Regions from separate parts of the Homo sapiens genome. Here region 2 is linked to region 1. Evidence: fine-mapped expression QTL. A gene starts in region 1. The other region holds a variant in brackets. All regions are shown on one strand. Distances are between the middles of the regions. Region 1 holds the start of ITGB1BP1 (integrin subunit beta 1 binding protein 1). Region 2 overlaps ADAM17 (ADAM metallopeptidase domain 17).

Region 1 (2,913 bases):
ACCCCCTGATCACAGCGCCACGATCTGCTGTGGTCTCTGATCTCACTCTCCCAGCTGCACGCTGGTCAAAGGCGGAGCTCGGTGACTCCTCTGCATTGCCAGGGCGCCTGGCAGGGGACGCGCTTACTGAAGCCGAGAACTTTCTGGGGAGGTGACACCCCAACAGCGATTCCCATGTACCAAACGCCTACCACGTGCCATGCACGGTGCTAGGTGCACAGATCCCTCTCACCCTCACCCTCACCGACCAGCAAGGCTGCAGGATAACAGCCCCTTTCAAACGAGGATGCCAAAGCGCCCGAAGAGTCAGTGACCTGCCCAGGGTCACCAGAGTAAGGACGGATGCGGCCAAGCTCGGGGCCTAGGGAGAGCCGGCTCCGAAGTTCCTCCCAGACGCCAGCCTGCTTGGCACCTGTCTGTCACCGTGATGGAGCACCTTCCAAGCGCTGGGTGCGGAGGATGTGACAGCGAAGGGGACAGACAACCCCGACCCTGAGAGGCGGGAGGCGGCCGAAGCGGGGCAGAGGAAGAGGCAAGGAAACGGCCCGCGGCCGCCCGCCTTGCCGCCCCTCCGGGGCGACAGCGGCTCGGGAAGCTGCAGTCCGCAAGCCCACGCCCGATCTGCGTGGTTCCAAGCTCCTCCACCCGCGCCCCGGGAGCGCGGCCCCGCCCGGAACCAAGCCCGAGCCCAGGCATCCCTCCTCCGCCCGCCCCGCGGCCCCACCCATCCTTCCTGGCCGTCCGCGCCGCTCTCGGGACCGTGTTCCCGTCAGGCCTCCGCGAGCTCGGCCCCAAGCGGGACGAGGGCTGGGCGCTCACCTCGCAGCCGCGGGCCCATCCCCGGGTTGCGGACTTCGGGGTCCGCGTGGGAGTGCCGCGGCCTTTGGCGCCCAGGCAGCTACTCCCGTTCCCGCTCCAGCGCCGGCTTTTCCAGCCCTCCTGCCCACGTCCGCCGGGCCGCGCCTCCAAGACTATGCGCAGGCGCAGTCCTGACGTCCTACCCCCGGTTCCAAGACCCCAAGTGGTGGGAAGCCTCGCGAGCGGCGTCCCCCGACCGGAAGTCGAGGGGAGGAGTCTAGTGCCGCGGGCTCCGGAGTGACGGAAGTTGTGCTCTTGGTGAATGGGGTTCTTCCTTTTTTATTTACCGGTGGCTGTGCTTCCAATTTAGGAAGACCCCGGCGACCTGTTCCTCACCCCCGCTTCGCCCTCACACTTTCGGGATGTCTGCGATTCCTGCTGAGGAGAGCGACCAGCTGCTGATCCGACCCCTGTAAGGGACCAGCGAGAGAGGGAATGAAGCCACGGGCTGTGAGGGGCGCGAGGGGTAACCGGAGACTGGCCTCCTCCGTCGCCCGCGCTCCCACCTACCCCGGCAGCCTGCCTTTGGTCCGCGCTTGCGGGCCAGGCTTCTCAGGCTCGAGGGGTTGGAGGACCGTTGATCGGAAGGGGCCTGCTATAGAGTGAACGGGATTTTGCTTTTTCATCAGTTTCAGGGGAGGGTATGTTGGAGTCGGAAAAAAAAAAGTTTTACGGGGCCACCGCTCGCTTTCGTACACGCTAAGAAGCGTTTTCACTTAGCACAAGCACGGATCTCTGCGCGTCAGGGCAAGCTGTGAGGGAGCCGGTGAAGCTTATGACCGACAGGATGAGAGGAGGACCTGAATGAGGCTACAGCCGTGCAGGGAAGAATTAAGTCTGTTTCTTAACACCAGGGCTTCACATGTGCCAGAAGTTAGAAAATATTAGGGACTTGCCGTGAGTTTCGATCTTCTCAGCTCAGGCCCTAGTAGAATAAGGAAGGTGTAAAGCTGGAGAAGAGAAAGTGCAGAGGTGTTAGGGACAAAAACTCAGCCCTCGACTGTCCATAAGGAGAGTGGCCTTTCAGTGGACACGATCCTCATCAGTCGGGAATGCTGCTGAAGGGGAGATGCAAATGTAGAGAACTTGAATTCCTACAGATGAGCATTTCGAACCCACAACATGTTTATTGTTAGATACTAGTTGGCACAACATGAATATACGCTTTCCAAAAGGTAGAAAGTATCTCCTTTACACAATCATTCAGTAAGGCTTCATTGAGCACCTGCTTGGGACATAGTCCGTTTCCTTCTGCTTAGTTCACACCTGTCATGTCTTCCTGTGATGAGCAAACACTGAGCAAGTGTCAAGCACCACACATGGGGATATAGACGCAACAGAGGGCCCAGTTAATTGCTCTCGCTCTTTTGGAGAGAATTACAGTGCACAGTGGGAAATATTGGAGAGATACTTTGGAATAATAGGAGACTATTACTTTGAAGTCAGACCTGAAGTCCATTATCTACTTGACCAATTAGTAGGACAACAATCTCACTGAACCCGTTTTCTCATATGGAAATAAGATAAAACTTGAAGAGTGAACATCGCGGTAGGTGCTTTGTAAATAATAGCTAATCTAAGAACGCAGGCAGGCATTGCACTGAGCACTGTGAAAGTATGGAAAAGGGATTTCTGACAGATTGAGGAAAAAAGGATACCTCGTGGATCCTGAAAAATGTGATGCCTGAGCTGAGTCCTAAAGAATGAGTAGGAGTTAAAGACTGGGGGGCCCAGGATGTTCTAGGCAGTGGAAGTGGCACATATGAAAGTGAGAGTGGTCACAGCTTGTGGCCAGATTCCTCATGGCTGTAGCTAAAGAGTTGAGTTAGCAGATGAAGCGACAGGCAGTTGAGGTCCAGTTTAGGAAGCACCTCGTATACACAGGAGTTTGGACCTTTATCAAGTCAATTACAGGGAGCCAGCGAAGGCTATTAAGCAAGCATGGATATTGTGGGAATTATGTTTTAGGAAAATCTCTCCTGGCAGCAGTGTAGCAGATGAATAAAAGCATGGATGAATAAAAGCATGGATTGAGTAGAGCAGATTCAGTGAGAT
Region 2 (2,913 bases), 68 kb after region 1:
TAATCGAAGTTCACCATCACTGTTGTCAGAAGGGTAAACATTCCAACCTAGACCCTTCCTGCTGCAACATGACCTTCCATCAGCCAGTGAAAGCTCTTGCTGGGTCAGGTGAAGGTCTTTGCCTAACAGGGCCTCAGACCAGGCGAAGATTATGTTTCTTTCATATGGTATACTTACACTGGGGTGAAACAGAGACAGAGATTCATACTGTTTATCCAATTTCTTATCCTAGAAAGAAACAGCAAGAAGGTCATTCCCTACAAATACAATTCAGTTAGTGAGTACTATTTCATCACAGGCTATTCCTAACACTAACTGAAGAACTTAGAACCTGAGTTGTAGAAAGTGATAGCAGGCTCAACAGATGACAATCCATTTCTCACCCAAGCTTTAGTTATGCCACCAGTCTAGAAGTGTTTCCTTTGCACTCAAAGGAAATACATTTTGGCGTTAAGTACAGAAAGAGGCAAGGTTTAAGTGCTATGTTTTCTGAGAAATTTATCCCTCTGTGGGCAGGGGAATAATAAAGGCATCTTCCTGTGCATGAAATGACAAATGTCCCAGATGCTGGGTACACCAGGACCGCACTGACTGGAAGGGCAACTGGTAGGAAGACCCAGGTGGCTGGGCCTGCAGCATTCTTCGCACTGCCCCGGCCCATGGCCTCACTCTCTTAGCTGTCTCCACAGTTTCTGTGGACCATGCTCTGCTGGAGGAACTGGGCCTCAATCCCTACATCCTACTTCTGCAGAAGGCTAACCACATGGCCATCTGCTGCCCCATCCCTGCCTGTGGCTGAAGCATAATAGGTGACAGAGGGCAAGGACCAAGAATCCAGGACTAGGCTTCCTGTCTGGGTGCCATCAATGCATTCTATGACCAAAAACAAGCCATGGCCCTCCCTCCTATCGGAGGCTTTGCTCTGAAATCAAGGGTCGTGCCTTGTCCACATGTGCAACTTCCCTGTAAACAAAATAGGTTCCATCCTCCAATAGAAGCAATCGTGATGGATGGCACTGTCATCCAGAGACATCTGTCAAAGCTTCAAGCACGTCACCTTCAGCTTTCTTCAGCACAAGTGCTCCCTAGAGATCTTCCTATACCCATCATGCTCACCACCCTGAGGAAGAGCTGCTCTGTGAGATGGCCCCTAGGCAGGAGAAGCCAGCAGGAAAGGAAAGGAAGGAGGCAGTAGGAAAAACTCCTTTGTCATCAGAGTTGTGCTGGAATTTTTAAATGCTCATAGGAAGGCCACTATGAAAGAGTTTGGGAAAACAAGTCTGGAAGCCTGGGTGTGACTTTCTCATCTCTACAGCAGACAAATCCCCATTCCCCACAGATGCAAGTGAATGGATTCGTAAGAACATTTATGAAAAAGGGCCTCAAATTTATAAAGGACCAGGAGTTCCTTAGTCAAAGCCCAATTCAACTTGTAGCTGTTACTGATTCTGAATGAGAACAGAAAAGACTGCTTACTCTTATTTTTTGGGGAAGATGTAAATACTCTATATGACAGCTGGGCCCCAGTCCCTACATCCTATTTGTGCAGAAGGCTGAAGACATAGCCATCTGCTGCCAATAATCTACATGATATATGGGGAACATCTGAAATGCCGATGTTTGATATTTGCTCTATTGCAACGAAGTCAGCCTGAAAATGCTCTTCAAT[A/G]AGGGCTTTACTCATCAAAGGACCTGGACAAATCCAGTTAAACAGTCTCCTATGCTTAAAAGTATAAAATTCCTAAGAAATTTATATATTAAAACACCAACACACAAAAATAGTATTTTTTTTAAAAGACCATTAGTTAAGCTTTCTACAAGACATGTTCCCCTAGGAATAACAACAAAAAAAGCTATTGGAAATATCAGGCCAAACTTTGCTAAGAACAAGTTTTACCTTTTCCAGAGATTACATGGTTGGAGTTGATCAAAATTTAAATAAAACATTTAATTACTTAAAAGTTGATGACTTACCACACAATGGACAAGAATGCTGAAAGGAATCCAAAATATCAAGGAGAAAACCAGGACAGACCCAACGATGTTGTCTGCTAAAAACTTTCCTGTGAACAATTCCAAACAGTTAATGTCTTGACCAAGTACTTCACAAATCTAAAGTGAAATGCTCTTAGGATATTACCATTGTGTCAAATGCCAGAGCTGCTGGCTAGACATACTACCGAGAGCAGAATGTCTGTGCTGCCTGTATTACACCACACCATCTCTCCATACCAAGTGCTTTTAAAGAAATAGCCCTCATATACTGGCTGACAGGAAGAGATTGCAGAATATTCAACATGTTACCTGGAGTAGCTGTGTCAACAGATTAATATGGAATGCTACTACTAGTAAATGCTTAAGAAGACAAAGTTTTTGTTACCTGGATATTATTTTTGTGATTAAATTATGGACTCGTGACAACATGATATACCCTGCTTCTGCAAAATATGAGGCTCACTTTTACATCAAGCAGGATTCAGTATATAGCATTCAGTCAAATAAACACTCTTACATCAATCAGGATTCAGTCTATAGCATTAAACTATGCTTATGCTAATCACATGGATATTTTTGGGTAAAGAAGGAAGCCAGTATTTTGACTTTATTTCCCTTGTCAGAAAATCTGTGCATCCAAGCTCCACGGGGACAGACTATCTATGAGTTCATTTTATTCTAGCCAACAAAGTTGTTTCATAACTAAAGCTGTGAATAGTTCCACCTTCTACTGCAGAATTAAAGCACATCACTCTGAAAGCACACTTTTCTAATGTCATCACAGAAATTGACTCAGCTCTCAGTAAGTAATCTGGGGAAATCACCTACCAAAAGTATTGATGCTCAGCTGGTCAATGAAATCCCAAAATCGTTCAATTACATCCTGTACTCGTTTCTCACATTTGCCCTATGAAGAAA

Evidence for each region.
Region 2: its variant is fine-mapped to the expression of ITGB1BP1 in whole blood (TOPMed, PIP above 0.99).

The regions. Positions count from the first base shown.
Region 1 is chr2:9,422,554-9,425,466 of GRCh38, forward strand. ITGB1BP1 (integrin subunit beta 1 binding protein 1) reads right to left here and starts at 975. Exons shown (of 7, transcript NM_004763.5): 1 at 820-975. CPSF3 (cleavage and polyadenylation specific factor 3) reads left to right here and starts at 1,101. Exons shown (of 18, transcript NM_016207.4): 1 at 1,101-1,270. The coding sequence starts at 1,221. RefSeq lists enhancers at 1-284, 278-327, 1,198-1,247, 1,288-1,337 and a silencer at 468-767.
Region 2 is chr2:9,490,924-9,493,836 of GRCh38, forward strand. ADAM17 (ADAM metallopeptidase domain 17) reads right to left here. Exons shown (of 19, transcript NM_003183.6): 16 at 2,824-2,902; 17 at 1,975-2,063; 18 at 178-228. It also overlaps a transcript of IAH1 not described here. Among named protein-coding and RNA genes, the nearest start is that of IAH1, 18 kb to the left of the region's middle. The variant A/G (reference allele first, on the strand shown) is at 1,670.